Homo sapiens: one gene and its partners. The protein of the gene in region 2 interacts with the protein of the main gene of each other region in a biochemical or structural test. Each region holds a gene or a part of one and is shown on either strand. Other genes may lie near its edges. The genes, in order: MRAS, RALGDS and RRAS.

Region 1 (7,138 bases), on a different chromosome or scaffold from region 2:
GGGCGCAGTGGCTCATGCCTGTAATGCCAGCACTTTGGGAGGCCGAGGTGGGCAGATCACCTGAGGTCAGGAGTTCGAGACCAACCTAGCCAAGATGGTGAAACCCCATCTCTACTAAAAATACAAAAATTAGCCGAGCGTGTTGGCAGGTGCCTGTAATTTCAGCTACTTGGGAGGCTTAGGCAGGAGAATTGCTTGAACCCGGGAGGGGGAGGTTGCAGTGATCGTGCCACTGAACTCTAGTCTGCCCAACAAGTGTGAGACTCCGTCTCAAAAAAAAAAAAAAAAAAAAAAAAGACATTCTGTCATTTGCAGCAACATGGATGGAACTGGAGGTCATTATGTTAAGTGAAACAAGCCAGGCACAGAAAGACAAATATTGCATGCTCTCACTGATATGTGGGAGCTAAAACAGTGGATTTCATGGAGGTAGAGAGTGGAATGATTGACATCAAAGGCTGGGAAGGGTGTGTGGGTGGGGGGATGAAGAGAAGTTGGTTAATGGGTACAGAAATACAAAGAGAAGGAATAAGTTCTAGTATTTGATAGCACAGTAGGGAAATTATAGTTAACAATAATTCATTGCAAATTTCAAAATAGCTAGAAGAGAAGAATTGTAATGTTCCCAATACAAAGAAAGAATGTTTGAGGTGATGGATATGCTAATTACCTGGATTTGATCATTACCATGCCCTCAAAATATGTATGAATATGATATCAATAAAAGAAAAGGGAGCAAGCAGAATAGTGGTTGCCAGGGACTGAGGAGAGGGGAGAATGGGGAGTCAGTGTTTAATAGGTACAGAGTTTCAGTTGAGGAAGGTGAAAAGGTTCTGGAGATGAATGGCAGGGATGGTTGTAGAACAAAGTGAATGCACTATGCACTTAGAGATGGTTAAGATGGTAACTTTTATGTTATGTACACTTTATCACAATAAAACAAACAAACACAAAACTCTATGGCTCTGCCGAAGGTTTGGGGCTTCCTGATTCATGACAAGAGAGAATTGGGGTGAGGGCAGTCACACAGCTGAAAGCCAAGGTGAGGTGGTGTTCCAAAGTCAGAGACAGGAGGAGAGGGCTGAGAGCATGGAGATGGGACAGCCGAAGCAAACCCCACAGTGGAGAAGCAGGGACCAGACGGGGAGGAAGAGAGGCTCCGAGGGTTGGGCCCTTGACAATATAAAGTGAGATGAGGATCCCGAACCCTTGCAGGAAAGAACTCAGAGCAGGCTTGCTCCAAAGCCTGGGGGTCCCACAGCCACAGGAGAGCCTGGCTGCTGGCCCCTGAGGCCAGCCAGCTCTTGTCTCTTAGGTTCTGGGAGGACACAGGCAATGTGACTTCCTGGAAGAAAACAAGAAACAGGTTTGCAAGAAAGCAGGCAGCCTGTGAGAATAATCAGTGTGGAAGTCACAGAGAAGGCTTCCTTAAGCAGCTTGCAAATCTCTGACGTGAGACTGAGATCACAACCGGAGCACCTGGTTCTCTGAAGGACCCTGGGTGAGGAGTAAGAAGGGCAGAAGAGGTATGATAGTTCAGCCACACCCACTTCTTCCTGGGACTTCAGCTCCCCTTCCCAGAGGCACAAGGATCCACTGTGCTGTGGGGGAGGATTTTCCTACACAACCAGACTGACAGTGGGTAGGAGTCAACAGGTAGCTCAAACTGTTGCTGGTTGTGTGAAACTTTTGCTGTATTTTCTTCAACTATAAAACAGAAATAACAACAGCAACTACCACGATAGCATTTGTAAGGATTCAAAGACAGCAAATGCAATGTGCTTAGCACGGGCCTTCCACACAGTTTCTGCCCATTCAATACCCCGTCATCAAAATTATCATTCTCTTCCTTCTCCTCATCATCGTGCTGCCACGTTTTTATTCTTTCTGAGTTTGGAAGAAGAGAAACTGCAGAGTTGAGATCCCCTGGAGTTCAGTGGGGTACAGGGCAACTGAGGGCACCTCCAGGCTTAGCACCTCCCCGAAGATGGCATGGCCTCAGGGGAGCAGGACCCCTGGGATCCAGATGCCCAGGGAAGTCCTGGCCATCTGAGGGGTGCAGACCACTCCAGAAAAGTTCAGCCCCAGAAAGGTTCAGAGTTACTCACTGCAACCTCCGCCTCCTGGGTTCAGGCAATTCTCCTGCCTCAGGCTCCCGAGTAGCTGAGATGACAGGCGCCACCAGGCCTGGCTAATTTTTTTTGTATTTTTAGTAGAAGCGGGGTTTCACTATGTTGGTCAGGCTGGTCTCAAACTCCTGACCTCGTGATCCACCCACCTCGGCCTCACAAAGTGGTGGGATTACAGGCGTGAGCCACCGCACCCGGCCAAGTCTTCCTTTTCTTAATAGCAGATCTAATGGAGTGGAGAAGCATCTAATCTGGGAATCTGGTGTCTATTCCCGAGGAAGGCCTGGGTGGGCAATGCCCTAAATCGGGCCTGACTCTGGTGGCAGAATTAGAAGCTTAACAAACTCATTCTTCTAAAGTAATGCCATGGAGAGCCCAGGCATTCAGAACACAGGCTTTGCAAATGCACACTTCTAATATAATGCTGCGGCCATGTTTCCCCTCTCCCTGCTGCTCCTGCTATAAATGTTGAGGAAAACATTCAATCTTGAGGAAAACATTTTTCCTCAGAAACCAATTTAACATCCAAAGGTACTCAGGAAAAAGTCAGAGAAGTTTATATGGCTGTAGAGAGAAATACTGATTGAGTTCCAACGATGTACCAGGCATGGTGTTACTTTCTTACATGCATTATGCAATGTGTTTCAGAATGTTCTCTATGGAACATAGTTCAGAATCACGTGCAAAAAATGACCCCTGTGGGAAGCTCTAAGGACAATGTATCCTATCACTACACCTCTAATATGTGTTTGCATGTTAAAAGTTCTTGTAAGTCCTGCAGTGAAGAAACTTGTTTACATTTATTTAACTCAGTATATCCCAAAGTGTGCCATATATTCCAATAGGTGATGCATGAAATGATTTTAGAAAGTGCACAGATGTAAGTTTTAATTTTAATAGTTATATATACTTATTATTGTAATGTGAGTTAGAAAAAAATAATATAGCTAGCACATCAAACCTTTCACTACACATATATTGTTCAAGGTTTATTCTTTCATTTGGTCATTCCACAAATGTTTACTGGGGAGCTACTATGAGCCAAGCAGTATTCTAGATGCTAGGAATAATGCAGTCAGTAAATAAAGTCCCTGCTCTCAGACATTTATATTTTAGTCAGCAGAGACAAAAACACAAACAAAGATAAAATATGTCCAACCATAAAAGGCAGAATAAAGAAGAACAGAGTTGGGCATAGAAATGACTGGGGTGGGGTGGATACTAGTGTCAATGGTTTGGTCAGGGAAGACCTCTTAGATAAAGTGACATTTGAGCTGAGACCTAAATGAAATCAGTGTTTCTGCAGGAACAATGTTCTAGGCAGAGAGAAGACAAAATGCAAAGTCCCAAGATGGGAAGGTGCTTGGTACCTGTTCAAATTGTTCAAAGTCCCAGGGCTGCAGACAAACCCTTGGAGGACGGTGCTTTTTAAAATTGAGATACAATCTACATGCCATAATATTAATACTTTAAAAGTATATAATTCAGTGCTTTTAAAACATATTTACAAAGTTTTTTTGTTTTGTTTTGTTTTTTTGAGAGGGAGTCTCACTCTGTTGCCCAGGCTGGAGTGAGGTGGCGCAGTCTCGGCTCACTGCAATCTTTGCCTCCTGAGCTCAAGTGATTCTCCCACCTCAGCCACCCGAGGCTAATTTTTATATTTTTAGTTGAGATGGGGTTTCACCACGTTGCCCAGGCAAGTCTCAAACTCCTGAGCTCAAGCAATCTGCCCACCTCAGCCTCCCAAAGTGTTGGGATTTACAGGCCTTGTAAGCCACAGCGCCCAGCCACAAAGTTGTATTTTTTTGAAGTCATGATTTGGTTCTGCTTCTGGCCAAGATGGAGTGACAGGGACCAGATTTACGTTCTCAGCTGAAACAACCAACAGACAGACAAAATATGTGGGAGGACTGCTTCAGCCCAGAAGGTCTAGGCTGTGGTGAGCCTTGATCATGCCACTGCACTCCAGCCTGGGTAACAGAGCGAGACCCTGTCTCAAAACAAAAACAAAAACATCTTCCCACAAAGAAAACTCCAGGGCCAGATGGCCTTGTTTGTGAATTCTACTAAACAGTTAGGGAAGAAATACCAATTTAACTCAAACTCTTCCAGAAAATTGAATAAAACTCGTTCTATGAGGCCAACATTACTCTGATACCAAAATTAGACACAGACATTACAAGAAAACTATAGACCAATATTTCACAAGAACACAGACATAAGAATTGTAAACAAAAGTTTAGCAAATCAAAGCCAACAATATTAAAGGATAATACATCATGACCAAGTGGGGTTTATTCCAGGGATGCAATTTTGGTTTAATATTAAAAAAATCAAGGACCAGGGATGGTGGCTCACACCTGTAATCCCAGCACTTTGGGAGGCTGAAATGGAAGGATTGCTTGAAGCCAAGAGTTCAAGACCAGCCTGGGCGACAATGGGAGATTCCCCCCAATCTTCACAAAAAAATAAAATATTAGCCGGGCACAGTGGTGTGTGCCTACAGTCCTAGCTACTGGGGAAGCTGAGGCAAGAAGATCTCTTGAGCCCAGTATTTTGTGGTTGCAGTGAGCTAAGATCATGCCACTGTGCTCCAGCCTGGGTGACAGTGCAAGACTCTGTCACAAAAACAAAACAAAACAATCAATGTAATTTACCACATTAACAAACTAAAAAAGGAAAACCATTTGGTTATCTCAGTAGACACAGAAAAAGCACTGGACAAAATCCAACATCCATGCCTGATAAAAACTCTCAGCAAACTAGAAATAGAAAGGAACTTCCATGACCTGATAAAGGCCATCCATAAAAGGCCTGCAACTAACATCATACTTAATGCTAAAGACCAAACACTTACCCCTTAAGATCAAGAACAAGACAAGGATGTCTGTTCTTGTTACTTCTTTTCAACAGGATGCCAGAGATTTTAATCAATGAGATAAGGCAAGAAAAAGAAATAAGAGCCATCCAGATTGGAAAAGAAGAAGTAAAACTGTCTTTACTTGCAGTCACTATGGTCTATTCAGAAAAATCCAGCAGAATCTACAAAAAAGATACTAGAACTAGTAACTGAGTTTAGCAAAGTTGTAGGTTACAAGATTAATATACAGAAACCTATTGTTTTTATATATACTAGCAACAAACAACTGAAAATTGAAATAAAAAACCAAAAATAATAATTTACGGTAGCATCAATACAGATACAGGTATAAAACTGACAAAACATGTAAAAGACCTATGCACTGAAAACTACAAATAAGCCAGGCGTGGTGGTTCATGCCTGTAATCCCAGCAGTTTGAGAGGCTGAGGCTGAGGCAGGCGGATCACGAGGTCCGGAGATCGAGACCATCCTGGCCAACATGGTGAAACCCCGTCTCTACTAAAAATACAAAAAAAATTTAGCTAGGTGTGGTGGTGCGTGCCTGTAATCCCAGCTACTTGGGAGGCTGAGGCAAGAGATTTGCTTGAACCCGAGAGGCGGAGGTTGCGGTGAGCTGAGACTGCACCACTGCACTCCACCAACCTGGTGACAGAGCGAGACTCCGTCCCCCCAAAAACAAACAAACAAACAAAAAAACCTACAAATAAAACTGACAAGAGAAAGAAGACCCAAATAAACAAATAAATAAATAAATAAATAAATAAATGGAAAGAGATACTGTGTTCATGGGTTGGAAGCCTCAACATTGTTAAAATATCAACTCTCCTCAAACAGATCTACAGTTTCAACACAATCCCAATCAAAATCTAGAATTTTAGAATTTAACTGATGCTAAAACTCACATAGAAATACCTTAGGACCTAGACCAGTCAAAACAACTTTGAAAAATAACGAAGTTGAAGATTTAATACTCCCTGATTTCAAGCATCTCCTCGAGGGTGTGTTAAAACACAGGGTGTTGGGCCCACCCTCAGAATTTCCAAATCAGTATGGGCCTGAGGATGTGCATTTCTAATTAGTTTCCTGATGCTGCGGCTACTGCTGGCCTGGCTGCCACACTTAGAACTAGTAATCCAGACTAATTCACACTCAGCTAGAAACACAATGTCAGATGCAAGAGATTCCCCTCAAAGGACAAGTACCAAGTAAACTATGCTCATTAAGAAACAACTTGCTTTTCCCTTTTTTATTAGCTAAAGACATCCATAACTGTTAATCAGAGATTCTGATCAGCAAGAAAAAACACACATGACATCACTGAGTTGGCATGATTCTAGCCTCCCCTCTTTGCTGAATGCACATTTTGGTTTCCACGAAATCTTGCAAGCCCTCTACGCAGGCCTTCCCTGTTGAGAATTCACCCTGAAAACGACACACGGCTTTATATCAACCATCCCATAACAGCAACATTAAGGAAACCATCTTGCCCCACTGAAACCTGTCAAATTTCCCTGATCCTCCCCATCTACTATCCCACCCAATGCAGGGCTGCCACCCAGGTCTCACCGTCCAAGATGGCCCATTGATTGTCAATCTCCGTATGTTTCAGGTAGGAGTCTTCAATGGTGGGGTCATAGTCAGGCACAAAGATCTTCTGGAAAAACTGGATGGTGAGGGCACTTTTGCCCACACCCCCATCCCCCACCACCACCAGCTTGTATGTGGGGAGGTTGTCACTGGGGACGGCGCTGGTTGCCATGTTTCTCGTAGGTCAGACCTGCGGCAGCAAGACATGTGGAATGAGACAGAGGGCTTTTTTAACTTAGGGGAAAATATTCATATGTTTTCCTCCTTTATAAAGTAATACTCTCAATTATAAAGAGGTTTGAAAATGAAGAAATGCAAAAGAAAATAAAAGCATTACCCCTGGTCTCACTAGCCAGAGACAGTCCACTGTTAAAGTGATTTATTCAACCATCATTTATTCAACACCAATTATGTGCCAGGCCTGGTGTTGAGGACACAGTACCACTGGTCTTGTTTAGCAAGTATAGCCAAAAGCCATGTCAAATAAGCTTTTTGGCCACTAAACTCTACTTGTACAGGTTAACACGAGGGCAGTGGTCT
Region 2 (7,138 bases):
TTTGATCTCTTGATCACACTGTGTGCAGGTCTTCGGTTTAATCCCCAGGGCTCATGAGCACTTTGACACTGAAGACCCCAAGGCAAAGGGCCTGTCCCTGTGTGGGTGTGTGTCCCTGCATGCATGTGTACAGACTGTGGTCTTCCAGGAGAGCTTCCTGGGTGACTCTGAAGGGGCAGCCCCCAGGACCCTCAGGTTCCCCTCTTGCTCTACTCGGGAGGGTCCCCCAGAAGAGGGGGACCAGGCTGGCTGGTCCTGGGTCTTTGTTCCTTCTCCAGGCGGGGGATGCTCAGGCATGCTGGCCTGTTTCCCGGGAGGCTCAGGAATGGCCCTGGGAGATATCAAGCTGCTCGTTGCCAGAGCTGGGGTCTGATTCTTAACCTGGAAATTGGGCATTTCCAGGACCTGTCTGCGTTGCCAATGAGAAAAGAGTGGGGAGATTTATCACTGGCCCTCTGCAGGCAGGCTCTGAACGAGCCAGTGGAGCGGTTTCAGGAAGCTGCACCCAGGCAGTCAAGGACTGGTTCCCAAGAGCTGCTGGTTGGCCGCCCAGATGGCTCCCATGGCGTGGTGCCACCATGCTGTGGCCACCCAGTCCCAGGGTTGGACTTCCAGCCTTGCAGGCCCAGAATCACTGTGTTCCCAGATATACAGCAACAGCAGAGCAGTGTTCCCCATTTGATTGTTAAGGGGCAGACACTGATGCATGCAGCCTCATGCAGGACAAGCTGAGCTTTGAGCAGACCCAATTCTCCCAGTTCCGCACACCTTGGCTGCCCACGGGCGGGGGAGGCAGTGGGATGGCAGCCCAACAGTGGCTTGGCGGGCGGGGCAGGACACCTGCGTTGGAGGGTTTTGGCGTTTTCCTCCATGGGGAAGCTTGCATGCTTTGGCAGCCTCCCCTGTAGTCATTCCTGGAGACTTTTGTCCATCTCAACCGAGGGGCAGGGAGCCTGGGCTCTGGAGAGAAGAGAGCTATGCTGGGATGCCAGCTCAGCCCCCTAGCAGATGTAGACGTGCTCCTGAGCCTCAGTTTCCTCATCTGTAAAATGGACATGATGCCAGCTCTCCTGTTAGGGTTCTGGTGAGGACCCTCGAGTTAGACAAGAGACCTGAGGAGCAGCCTGCACAGCACTTGGCACAGTGGACAGGTAGCAGCTGCCACAATGAGGTTTTCTGATTAGGTGCCAGGGGAGCGGCCTGACCCTTCCAAGTGCCCTGGGCTCCTCGGGTGCGTCACCTGGCACCTTCAGCATGGCACTTCCCTGGCCTGGTGTCTTGTAGGCCTTTTGCCCAGGGCACGTCCACAAACCTCTCGGAGATGCAGGTGCTAGAAAGCTGGCCCTGCCACCCTCCCCTGCGAATTTGCTGTGTGACCTGAGGAAATCCTTCCTGTCTCTGGCCCCTCCTCCACATCTGTGCCACAAGGGGCTGGACTCTGCTCCAAGCCTGAGACCATGGCAGAGGCAGCGCCAGGCCTGGGTGGGTCCCAACAGGCCAGGGTTCAAATCCCTGTTCTGGCTGCCACGTCCTGGCTCCTGACCTGGGCGAGTTCCTCTCAGGCTGTTTCCTTGTCCATCAGGCAGGGCGTTAGGAGGATTAAACGTGATGGGTGTCCAAAGGGCCTTGCACCCAGGAAGTGCCCGCATGTGCTGGGCACTGTAGCTGGTTAAAGTTGGGGCTGCCCTGCACCCCCTTGGGACCAGCCCACCTTCCTCCTCAGCTGCCACCAGCCACGCCCCTCCCGGGCCTGGCCCTGTGTTCACCTGACTGTCAGGGGCTGGGCGTGGACAGGGACCCTGGATGCCCAAGGCTTGCGGCTGACCTGGAGGTCTGGTTCTCCCTCCTCCTGCTTGAGGCACGATTTTCCCATCAGTGAGTAGCAGGGCACAGGCCGGCAGGGAGGGTTTCTGGAGAGATGGGCCGGCCTTTGCGGGGCTCAGCACTGGTTGGTTCCCAGCCTCCACTTTCTGAGGCCAGGGAGCATCCTGGTGGGCAGGCACCGCGTGTCGTCCCGGTCTGAGGCCGCCTCTGTGGGCTGCCATGCCCAGGATCAGGAGTGTGGCCCACCCACACCCCGGGCTGGCCTCCTGTCATCTTGATGCTTTGTCTGTGCGCTGGGGATCAGGGTTGGGTCCACCCACCTGGAGCTGGAGGGCAGGCCCGAGGGCAGGAGGGTCACGGACACGGACACGAGGCCCTTGCGTTCCACCTCCCTTGATGGGGCTCATGGTCCGAGCTCATGACTTGAGAAGTCCTGGGCTCTCACCTCTGGCTCAGCCAGCACACGCCCCACCGGCTCCTGTCCTCGGGCATGGGTCCCCACCTCTGTAGGACGGAGAAGGGCACAGCAGCGTGGGCCCCGCACTGTCGCAGGAGCCTGGGCTCTGTAGAGAGCGAGCAGCCTTCTGTGATGCGTTTTACGTTTGGCTTCTGTATTGGAGCGGAAAGCTGAAGTCAGAAAGCTGCTCCCACCCACTGGGTTTCAGGGTGACTCAGCCTCTCTTTACAGTGTCCCTCGGCTAGGTCCCTGAGCCTTAGGCAGGCCTCAGACAAGTTTCCCTCAGGTTTTTACAGCCCAGCATCCGTCGCCGGCCCCAGGGGGATATGATGTCAGGTGTTGTCCGGTACCACGCCATCAGGTCCCAGTGCCGGTCACCGAGCTGTGTGCATTCTCTCTTGACCCCCACTGTTGCCTGTGACAGGTAGTGCTGCCCTCCCCAGATGACACACCAAGGCCGAGGGCCAGGGGCTGGGCAGAGCCAGCGAGAGACAGGGAGCTGCTGTCTGGTGGGCCAGAACTGTGAGGTGCTGGCAGGGGGGTGGCAAGCACCCCGGGGTGACCTCTGGTGACTGGGACCTGAGCAGCAGCTCAGAGGGGCTTGGGAGGTCCCCCAGGACAATCTCACGCACACGGAGGCTCTGCCGTGAGCCTTTCCACACACAGGCCCGGGGAGGACCAGGGGCGGAGCAGGCCGAGGTGCAGGCTAGAGCCCTCTCCTCACTCCGCTTCAGCCCTCAGCCAGGTCTCCTTGGGAGGGGCCGGTGAGTTCCTGGAGCCATCCATGGGGCAGGGGGCCACTAGCTACGGTTTCCAAGGAAAGGCGTCTGAGTCCGGAGCTGCACCAGAAGGCTGATGCTGGGAGGAGGTGCCGTTGGCCTGAGCGGGGAGATGGCAGGGCTGGGGCAGGCCCCGTAGGGTTCCTCAAGACCCTCACTATTCTACCCAGAGGGAGTCTGGGTTTGGCCTGTGGCTTCCTCCTTCTGTCAGCCAGGGACACGGCATCCTGCTGGCCTGTCACTCTGAGAAGGCTGATCAGGTGACACACTCACCAGACACCACCAGGCCCTGTTTCCCATCCTCATCTTCAGGGCTCTGGGCTGTGTCCCTGGAGACATTGGGGTGTGGGGGCCCCTGCTCACCGGGGACCCCATGCCACCCTCACTGCACTGACCCAAATGTTAGAAGGCCAGACAGTGTGTTTACAGGCACAGCTGCCGACTGGGTCCCAGAGCCCAGGGACATCAGCATGCCTGCTAGGGGTGGGACAGGAGTGTCCCTTGAGGACACAGCCAAGCACGTGGTGTTCTTTTCTCCTCCTAGCAGTCAGCTCATAGCGGCTGCCTGGGCACCTGCCCTCAGGGGAAAGCGTTTTCTCTGCATCAGCTGTTCACTAGGCCGTTCCTGCTCCTCCCGCTCTGAGCTCCCAGCCCGGCCAGAGTGCCCTGGGGCCCAGGCGCTGCCCAGATGGGCTGTCTGCTAACAGAGTGACCTAGGGTGGCCTGTGGGTGCTGGAACCCTGCCTTTCTTGCTGCAGAGGGTTCTGGGGCAGCTGCCAGGGCTGTTGGCTGCTTTCTTTCTCTGTCCTGTGAGGGGGCAAGGGATAGAGGCCTTACTCTGCCACTTTGTTCCCAGACCCCAGGGCAGCTCTCTCTGGAGCCTGCACCTCCACCATCTGAGCAGATGGTTTAAACAGCCCCTGTACTCCACGTAGCTCTATGGTCTGGTTCCATGCCTGCTGCTGCTGTGACGGGAAGCGACCAGAGAAGACAGGCCAGCTCCACGCGGGCTAGAGCGTCTCCCCGACTGTGTGACAGGGTGGCAACTCCCTTACCCCAAGCATGCATGGCTCTCAGTGTTGGGCCTGCATCCTTCCCCACCACCCGGCTGGCAGAAGAGGGCCCCCCGGGGGTGGGGGAAGGGTGCAGGGATCACATGACACCAAGCAGGGCTGGGCCAGCTGCTGGCCTGCCAGCTCACGGAGGAGCCGCTCTCTAGACCTGCTCAGGGACAGCCGAGGCCACCTGGCTTCAGCCCCTCCTGGGGATTGGCCTGCCTGGGGACACCTCTGTCCAGCAGGCACTGATGGTGCTCAGCCAGGACCTGGGTGCTGTGCTGGGCTCCCCCAGGGTTAATGTTTAGTCCCCTGTGGCGGGCTTGTCCTGCACGAGATCTCAGAGCCACTGCCGGTGACTTGGACACTCAGGATACTGTCTGCCTCCCAGCTGGTCCAGATGTGGCTAAAATCCCTGGGAGAGAGAGAGACTCCCAGCTGAGCCAACGGCCTTCACAGGAGGCAGTCTGGGACCCCTGAGGAGGCCCGGGTGGTTGGGGGCCCTGGTCGCTGTAACCTCTAATGCTTTTCTTTTCAAAGGAACAACTTTCTAGGCAGGGGAGAGATGTGTGAGTCAGGAAAAGGGGGGTGAGCGTATGTCTCTTTTCCTGTCAGTGGAAGGGCCAGACCTCCCCTGGCGGGGCTGTTTGTGGGGTGTGGGTGTGAGTGTGCCTGTGGGTTCCCTGCTAACTTCCAAGAAATGGGGCTGGCTCTCTGTCCAGAGGCGGTGGCGGTCAGGAGCCCGGCACAATGCCCGCAGCTTTCCTGTTGTACAAAGCCCAGCGTGGGAGGCGACCTCAGGTCGGAGGAAGTGGACTTCCAGGATGGCTCCTGGGCCTCTGAGGGTGCGCAGGAGGCAGGAGGCCAGGGTCCCGTCCACAGCATGCTGGACAGTCTACCTGGCTCCTGCTGGGGTTGAGGGAAGGGCCTGAGTCAGCACTGTCTGCCAGGCCTTCTCTGAGCTCCACGCCTACCTGGGCTGGGGCACTGACTGGGCGGTTAATGACCCTGGGCCAGGCCAGTACCTCTTAGCTCCTTCCTAACCTCTGAGGTTGATGTCCTTAACCCCCCGGCTCCTCTACCCGCTGCAAGCTCATTCCGTCCCTGGACAGAGCAGGTGGCATAGGGGGCTGTGAGGCCGGGGGTAATTGTGGCTAAGTGACCTAGGCCAGCCTGCCAGGTGGGGGAAGTCTGTCTCCTAAGACAACGGCCTTTCCTTACTGCCTGGGGCCAGATGCCCCCTTCCTGTTCCAGTCTAGGCCTGTGGTTTAGGGCTCTGTGGAACCCCAGCATCTGCCTGGATACCAGCACCGTCACCTCTCACACCCGTCCCCTCACGTGATGATGGTCAGGGAACTGGGAACTCCCATTGCCCAAGCAGGCACGAGGGCATGAATGAGCAGAGGGGAAGGAAGTGGCTGGGATGTGGCTGTCTGGGGTGCCCCACACCTGCCCAGACCTGGGCTGCCAACGCACCAGGGCTGGGCCCAGAGGAGCTGTGCGTTCCTGCTAGGTCAGCCAGGGCCCCCCAGGCTGGGTAGAGGAGGGGTGAGTGTGAGGATGCCCATGGGCCTCTGGCCCTGGGGAGGTAGGGGGACCTTCTCTTGGGGCATAGCCGCCTGGATGCAGTCAGCCGTGTCAGAGCCCTGGGGTCCCTGCCTCACCACTTACCCGAGGCAGCATGACCTTGGACCAGTTGTTCCTCTCTCAGCCTCCATTTACCCATCTGTGCAATGGCTGAATAACAGTCCCCTGTGTGGAAGGGGATGGCTTGAGGGTGGGTCTGTCCTGGGCAGGAGCAGAAGCCAGTTACTAGGGGATTGGAAGCCTGGTGGACTCATCATAATCACGTCCCAGGTCGTGGCTGGCCGGGTTGGGGAAGTGGAGTGCCGGGACAGTGGCTCTCGAGCTGTGATCTCATTCCACCCCAGGCTGTAGGTCTGTGCAGCCGCCAGTCTGTGCCCTATCTGGGAAACAGGTTACACAGGTGCATCCCCTGCACGGTGGCCAGGCAGGCCCTTGACGTCCCCGCGCCCGGCTGCCGGGCGTTGTCTTCACAGAGCTCCACGCAGGAGATCGGTGAGGAGCTGATCAACGGAGTCATCTACTCCATCTCCCTGCGCAAGGTGCAGCTGCACCACGGAGGCAACAAGGGGCAGCGCTGGCTCGGGGTGAGTGCGCTCGGGGTCTCCACTGGGAGACGCAGCTGGGGATCCCTCCCAGGACTTTTTCACTTGAGGGCCCCCAGTTCTGATCCCAAAGGAAACGGCCTTCACTCCCTTCCCGACCCCCACTGTCCAGCCCAGGCTTAATCGGGTTTTCATGTTTGACCTCCCTTCCCCGGGTGTGCAGCCATCAGCCTCACCATCCTCCATGCCTTCTCCCAGATGTGCACACCATCTGGAGTAGTGGGGCTGTCTTCACCCAAGGACAAAAGGGCTTCAGGCTGTTAGGTCTCTGCAAGTTGCCATCTCCCAGAACACATCCCTGGGGTTCCTCCAGGTTGAGAGCCGGGGCCTGACTCAGCTGCATAATATTCCAGAAGGGAGGCTGGAGCCACTGCCCCAGTTCAGCTCCTCATGACTGTGGGGCCACTGTGAGTCCTCTGAGGACACTTCAACAGTGCTGCAGGAGCCAGGCGCAGTGGCTCATGCCTGTAATCCCAGCATTTTGGGAGGCCAAGGCAGGAGGATTGCCTAAGGTCAGGAGTTTGAGACCAGCCTGGCCCACATGGTGAAACCCCATCTCTACTAAAAATACAAAAATTAGCCAAGCATGGTGGTGTGTGCCTGTAATCCCAACTACTTGGGAGGCTGAGACATGAGAATTGCTTCAGCCCAGGAGGCTGAGGTTGCAGTGAGCCGAGATCACACCACTGCACTCTAGCCTGGGTGACTGTCTCAAAACAAAACAAAACAGTGCCACGGGGAAGATGCTGTGCGTCCTAACGGGCCAGTCCCTCCCAGCCCCTGGATAAGCCTCTGTTTCCTCATCTCTAGAATGGGGATATTTTGTTAGAGCTC
Region 3 (7,117 bases), on a different chromosome or scaffold from region 2:
TCCTAGAAAGCTTCAAAATCCCTAACCCACAACTCAGTATGCTTAATTGTAAATGCACGAAATAGGAGCATCTATCTCAGAGAATGGCTGTGAATACTCAAAGCCTGACTTCTGCCACACATTTAGAGCACCTCAAGTGCTCAATACGGATGAAGAGGAATGACACTATTAGCCCTTAACGCCCAGGTTTCCCCTACATCTGTCTCCTCGCTTCCCCCACAGCATGCCTGCAAAGACAAGGCCCTGGTCCTGTTCTAGATCCCATATAGATTTTCAAACCATGCCAAGCCTCCATATTCAGCCTCCCAGCTCCACCTAATTCCTAACTTCCTAAGACACACCCAACCCTGATAGTCTATTACATCCCAGCCTCTTTCACCAATACTCAATAAGCTCAGCCCCAGTTCCTGGCCCTGGAACTGCTCTCCAGCACCTCCCGGGGAAGCACATGCTACCTACAACAGTGACTGTCACATATCAGAAGCTTAATCAACATCTGCTGACTACAGGCTGAGGGATCCCCAAACCCTCTGCAGTATACAAAGATGCTTGCTTGCTCATTTAGAAAGCACCAGGCTTCGCAGACACACCCTCAGCTACTGAGATCTTCTGAACAGAAGAATGCTCTGCAGATACTGCTAGGTCCTATCTGGATCAGTGGTTTCCCCAACAACAGGGTCATATACCAGTTTAGTGCTTCACAAATAGCTTGTTTTAAAAAGTAAATAGAACAAAATAGTTCTTCACAGCACAGCACAAGTAGTAAGTGGAAATGTCAATTCGTGGAAGGTGAGTTAATGTTAATACATTATGTTATATAATGTTAAATACATTATGACTGTCTGTACCAGGTCTCAATGAAAAAATGTATCTTAATGCAGATCACGGTCAACATGGCCCAGGTTTCCCCTTGAAAAGCACTGTAATAGTGGGTCTAGATGACCCTCCAGACTCTTCCAGACTAATGTAGATTAATTCTAACTCTCTCAATAACCCCCAGGGTAATGCAGAATCTTAAAACATTTTTCATTTGAATTACTGTCTGAAGGGCAAGTATATCTAAGCTGGGCAAAATTTCCTCATTCTCTTTCCGTATTATTATTCGCCACAAGCTGCTCTGACCCCAAAGGCATTCGAATTTGCTCCAGGCATCAAAACTGCATTCCTGCAGTCACATTAAAGCCATCTAGATGGTTCCAGGTCCTTCTAACTGCCCCCAGCCTCCTGTCACCCATTATTAGACACTACCCATACCTTGGAGACCCCAGACCCTCAGTACATCTCAATATTTGGCGCCCTTCCCTGGTGGGCATAACCCAACCCCCTAGGGGGCCCTAAATGACTTCTTAGCCCTTGAACACTCCTTCTAGGCCTGATAAATGGCCCCAGACTTATGCAGACCAGTTGCATCCTCAGGCCAGCCCATGCAGACACTTTCCAGCCCTAAAAGACATACCCCAGGCCTCTAGATGGCTCTGAAGATACTCTTCAGGTCTTGCAGACCCTCCTTCACCCCTGGGACATATCTCAAGATCTCAAGATGGCCCCAGAACCCTCTAACCAGACCCTAGCCTCCGGTCAGCCCAAAAAGACAATCTACAGTGTCTACAGACACGATCCAGGCCAGCTGTGTGATGGAGGGCAGGCCTTAGGCTCGGTCTAGGCCCAGAGACGCCCCAAGTCCTCTCGGAGACGCCCCATAGACGCCCCCAGGAACCCACGGATGCGTCCCGGGGCCCTGAGAAGGCCCCCCTCTCGGCGCCAGGTTTCGCCGCAGCTGCCGGGCCCGAGACCGCCCCGAGAAGCCCTCTAGGACCCGTGGCTTGTGGGGAGGACCCCGGGACAACTAGCGACCCAACTCCGCCCCGCCCACCCCAATAGGCCCGAGCCCCGCGGCCCGGACTGCCGCCGCCATCTTACCCCGCCGCTCGGGCTGCGGCTCCGGCCCCGGCGCGGGGCGGGGCGGGCTGGGGCGGGGTTCGTGAGCAAAGGAGGAGAGAGGCGGAGCTAAAGCGCCGCCGAGCTTGCCGGGATTTCAAGTACCGAGCACGGCGACGTGAAGGCCGGCGGGAAGGCAACCGCACTCGGTTTCCCAGAAGCCAATGGGACACATGGGGCGGGGTCCGCGCGATGCACGCCGGGAGGCGTAGTCCGCGCACCGCCTCTGTCGCGCGGGGACAGCTAATGGGGTGAGAGGTGAAGTGGGCGGGGCCGCGGTAGCCCGCGATGACGCCCCACAGTGCCCTGCGCGCGCGCGGAAAGGGTGGCGGAACAGGAGGTGACGTAAGAGGCGCCAGGCAGAACAGACGCAAGGGAATTGTAGTCCGGCGGAGTGAGCACGACTTGCTGGATGTTGTGCTGCCCACATTCTGGGGCTCTCAGAATCCAGATCCTCTAGGCCCCCCTAAATTTAGAACCAGACGGGATGCAGTGGCGCACACCGTAGTCCCACTCGGGAGACTGAGGCGGAAGGATGGCTTGAGCCTAGAAGTTAGAAGCCAGCCTAGGCAATATAGGGAGACCCCGCCTCTAAAAAAATAAAAATAGGCCAGGCGCGGTGGCTCACGTCTGTAATCCCAGCACTTTGGGAGGCCGAAGCAGGCGGATCATCTGATATCAGGAGTTCAAGACCAGCCTGACCAACATGGTGAAACCCAGTCTCTACTAAAAATACAAAAATTAGCCTGGCGTGGTGGCTAACGCCTGTAATCCCAGCTACTCGGGAGGCTGAGGTAGGAGAATCGCTTGAACCCGGGAAGCGGAGGTTGCAGTGGGCCAAGATCGCGCCATTGCACTCCAGCATGGGCTACAAGACGGAAACTCCGTCTCAAAAATAAACAAATAAAAATAAACTTAGAACCTAGAAGCCCGACCCCATAGCCGCCTCGTTCAGTACAGAGAAGTCTGAATTCCGAATCCTCTCACTCAGAGCAGTGTCCAGACTCCTATTTCCCTCCTCCCTCCGACTCAGGAGTCTGATTCTTCCTTCCTCGGATCCAAGAGTCGGTCTCCCAGACTAGTCCTGGTCTCAAGCTCTCACATACGAATTCGGGTCCCCCCAAGCCAGTGCCCTCGCTCGGATCCAGAATCCTGGGTCCCCAGCCTCTCCAATTCCTGGACCTAAGAGTCCAGGCCCCCGGCTCCCTCCTTTACCGAACCTAGTACGAAGGAACCTGTCTACCTTCCTCCCTGACACCCTCCTCCCCAGGACCCAGGAGTCCACATCTCCAGCCCCATTTTCTCCTAAGGACCCAGGAGTCTGGGCCCTCTGCTTCCTTCTCCTTCAAGACCCAGAAATCCTGGCCCCAGGCTCTTCATGACCCAGGCATCCCTACTTGGGCGAGCTGGCTCATGGATTAGGAATGCAGTGATCTCACGGCCCCTCCCTGCCCCGTTACCCTGCTGTCCCCCTCTAGGGCCCCACTCTCCTCCCAGTCTGTCTTCCGCTTGGCTGGGACAGCGGGAACCGGAAGCCTGGGTCCCTTAGCGGGCGGAGACTCTAGCTTCTAACCCAGACGCCGGGGTCGAAAGCTTGGCTAGGATCCCAGGAGGGAGGTGGAGCTACTCCTCAAAACCTGCTGCTTCCTCGGAGCGCCCTATATACGGCCGCGCGCGCGAGTCGACGAGCTCCGCCTACCATACTAAGGCCTCGGAGACGATGCCCCAAGCAGCAGTGTCACAGGGGTCCTTATTTGCATAGCCCCTCCCCTGAGGAACTTTCCGCCCCGTCTGCTGAAAGAATAAATTCTTATTAGCATAGCCACGCCCACAGACCGCCCTCCCGCTGAGAGCGCGTGGCGCCGCTCAGGGCAAAGCACAGGTCTCTCATTAGCATAGCCCCGCCTCATTCGGAATTCCCCTTCGCAGCGAACGCCGTTCCCTTTCCCTTATTAACATAGCTCCTCCCTTTCTTTGGCCCGTCCCCCTCCTTAAGTGTCCGGAGACGCGAGCCCTCCTTGCCAGAGCTCATGATTATGCAGTAGCCTCATTAGCGTAGCCCGCCCCCCCGGGTCCCGCCCGGCTCCCCCGCAGGCGGTAGCGAAGGCAGCAGCAGCGGTGGCGACATGAGCAGCGGGGCGGCGTCCGGGACAGGGCGGGGGCGGCCCCGGGGCGGGGGACCTGGGCCCGGGGACCCCCCGCCCAGCGAGACACACAAGCTGGTGGTCGTGGGCGGCGGCGGCGTGGGCAAGAGCGCGCTGACCATCCAGTTCATCCAGGTAGTGGGCCCTCACCCGGGAGGGTGTCCCCCGGGACCCAGAACTGAGCCCTTGGGGGGATCCCCGAGACCCCTTTTCCCCCTTGACCCATCACTGAGACCCTCCTATAAGGCCCTCTAATCTTAAAAGATCCCCACAGATTGTAACCTAAACTCTTGGAGAGCCTCCATCCCCTGCACGGGGGACCCTTCCTTCTGCACTCGCATCCCGAGACCCACTATTCCCTCTCCCAGTGCCTAAGACCCCGCTTACCTGCTGACCTGGCTTTGAGCACCTCCTGGGAGCATGCTAAATACAAAATACTCACCCCATTCGGACCCTAAGCACTCCCAGGACCCCCACCACGCCCTTGGTGCCACCTTCCACCACCCTGAGCCCTATCTCCCCCAAATCCCAGTCCCCAACTTCCCCTCTAAGCCATTGAGAGCCTTCCTGGGAGAATGCCAGTGCCCAGCACCTTTGAGATTCCACCACGTTCGATTCTTTTTTTTCTTTTTTTTTTTTTTTGAGACAGAGTCTCACTCACTCTGTCACCCAGGCTGGAGTGCGGTGGAGTGCAGTGGTGCGATGTTGGCTCACTGCAACCTCTGCCTCCTGGATTCAAGCAATTCTCCTGCCTCAGCCTCCCAAGTAGCTGAGACTACAGGCGAGTGCCACCATGCCTGGCTAATTTTTGTATTTTTTAGTAGAGACGGGGTTTCACCATATTGGACTGGTCTCGAACTCCTGACCTCGTGATCGGCCTGCCTTGGACTCCCAAAGTGCTGGGATTACAGGCATGAGCCACCGTGCCCGGCCCCACGTTTGATTCTTAGCCCCTTCCATGACTGCCCCCAGAATCTAGAAATTCTACCCAGACCCTGGCCCTGAGACTCTTCTGGGACTACCCAGTCCTAAGAGAGTCCTGCTCTCCGACCCGAGATTTAAAAAGACATCCTGCCCCTTGGCCATTCCAGAAATCTCCAAGACCCCAAGTCCTGACAATCCCCCATTCCCGGAGGCCCAAACCTCCACTCTCCCACCCCACCCCCAAGGAAAACCAGCCCCTCCTCCATCCCATGCTTTCTCCGCTGCAACTCCCTGAGCCCCTCTCAGAAACCCTGAATAGCTCTCAAATCATCTCCATGGAAGAAGCCCCCAGATTCTTGGCACCCCCAGAAAGATCTATTCCTTGGGAGTTTCTCTGACCCCATAAATGAACTCAATGTTTCTAAGACTGTATATACTATAACCTCCCAAAACCCCTGAGCCACCTCCGGGCTGGCTCCCAGTTCTCAGCCCTGAGCTTCTCACGCTGTGCTCTGAGGTCACGCCCCTAACTACCCCCAGAGCCACAATCCCTCCCAGGGCTTGATCCTTACAGCCTCCCTCCAGGACAAGCCCCTCACCAAGCACCCCTCTAACCGACAGATGCAGCCTTCAGACCCCTAGCCTCCACATCACCCCCTTTCCTGAAATTCCACCCCAGCCCAGGAAACCTCCTCCCCATTCCTGAGGGAGGTCCTCCCAGCTTCAAAGAAATCCTAGAAAAGTGTCTTGGCCTGACATGCTACCGCAGAGGCCCCGGGGCCCCAGGACACCCCCCTCACCCCCACCAAGAGACCCCTTCAAGGGCCTGGGAGGAAGCCCTGCTTGTGTAGAGAAAGGCCCCAGCCCTGGGCCCCTTGCACCCAGAGGCAGTCCCAGAGCTGGCCAAAGGCTTGGCTGGCAGCGGGCAGGACCCAGGCAGGAAGGGAGGGGCTGGGGCCCGAGGGTGGGGCAGCCTCTCCGCAGCCGGATTGGAACCGGGACCTTCCCCTGGGAGGAGACGCTGGAGGCCGCCTGAGCAGGAGAAGGAGACGGGGGAGGAGGAGACGGGGGAGGAGGAAGAGAGGGAGGAAGCAGAAGAGGAGGGAGAGATATAAACAGGCAGTCTGGACAACAACGCCTCCGATAACTGATACATTCAATATTTAATGGGGTTTTGCTCCGAATCTTGCCAGTGCTGGATGGAGTGTAGTGCTGTTCTTAGCCTCCTTTTTCAAATGAGGAAACTGAGGCTCAGAGAGGGGAAGTGATTTGTTCAGTGTCACACAGCTAGGATGTAATCACGATGTGGGACATGTACCTTATACCAGAAAGAGAGGACCAGGAGTGACTCAGAGAGAAGAAGACTGGTAGGAGGGGTGGGGGGCAGGGAAAGGGGGGCAGGGGAGCAGCTACCCAAAGAGAAGGGGACAGAGACCCAGAGAGAGAGAGTAATAGAGACTCAGAGAGACAGAGGGGACAGAGACCCAGAGAAAAGGGGGCAGAGACCCAGCAACAAGGACAGACATCTGGAGAGAGAGAGAAGGACAGGGCAGGGCGCAGTGGCTCACATCTGTAATCCCAGCACTTTGGGAGACCCAGGCGGGCGGATCACCTGAGGTCAGGAGTTCGAGACCAGCCTGACCAACACAGCCTGACCAACACATCTCTACTAAAAATACAAAATTAGCCAGGTGTGGTGGCGCATGCCTGTAATCCCAGCTACTTGGGAGGCTGAGGCAGGAGAATCTCTTGAACCCAGGAGGCGGAGGTTGCAGTGAGCCGAGATCTCGCCATTGCACTCCAGCCTGTGCAACAAGAGCGAAACTCCGTCTCAAAAAAAAAAAAAAAAAAAAAAGACTCAGAGAGACAGACGGGACAGAGACCCAGAGAAAAGGGGGCAGAGACCCAGCAACAGGGACAGACATTTAGAGAGAGAGGGACAGAGACTGAGAGAGGCATCCCAAGGGCAGGGCTTCGTCCTGTCTGCCGGGGCACTGCAGTAACTATCCTCTCCCCACCCCGCCAGTCCTACTTCGTGTCTGACTACGACCCCACTATTGAGGACTCCTACACGAAGATCTGCAGTGTGGATGGCATCCCAGCCCGGCTGG

Evidence for each region.
Region 1: the proteins of RALGDS (region 2) and MRAS form a complex in vitro, tested with the Homo sapiens proteins (one study listed by BioGRID).
Region 3: the proteins of RALGDS (region 2) and RRAS form a complex in vitro, tested with the Homo sapiens proteins (one study listed by BioGRID).

The regions. Positions count from the first base shown.
Region 1 is NC_000003.12:138,372,516-138,379,653, reverse strand, and holds part of MRAS (ras-related protein M-Ras isoform 1 precursor), read right to left. Parts: intron 6,789-7,138; 5' UTR 6,771-6,788; coding exon 6,578-6,770; intron 1-6,577. UniProt on the Homo sapiens protein: Signal transducer in the Ras-MAPK signaling pathway that regulates cell proliferation and survival. Core component of the SHOC2-MRAS-PP1c (SMP) holophosphatase complex that regulates the MAPK pathway activation.
Region 2 is NC_000009.12:133,111,190-133,118,327, reverse strand, and holds part of RALGDS (ral guanine nucleotide dissociation stimulator), read left to right. Parts: intron 1-6,175; coding exon 6,176-6,286; intron 6,287-7,138. UniProt on the Homo sapiens protein: Functions as a guanine nucleotide exchange factor (GEF) activating either RalA or RalB GTPases and plays an important role in intracellular transport. Interacts and acts as an effector molecule for R-Ras, H-Ras, K-Ras, and Rap.
Region 3 is NC_000019.10:49,637,046-49,644,162, reverse strand, and holds the start of RRAS (ras-related protein R-Ras), read left to right. Parts: upstream 1-4,019; 5' UTR 4,020-4,064; coding exon 4,065-4,217; intron 4,218-7,032; coding exon 7,033-7,117. Other genes in the region: SCAF1 (splicing factor, arginine/serine-rich 19), read right to left, coding at 3,638-3,640. UniProt on the Homo sapiens protein: GTP-binding protein with GTPase activity, likely involved in the regulation of MAPK signaling pathway and thereby controlling multiple cellular processes. Regulates the organization of the actin cytoskeleton.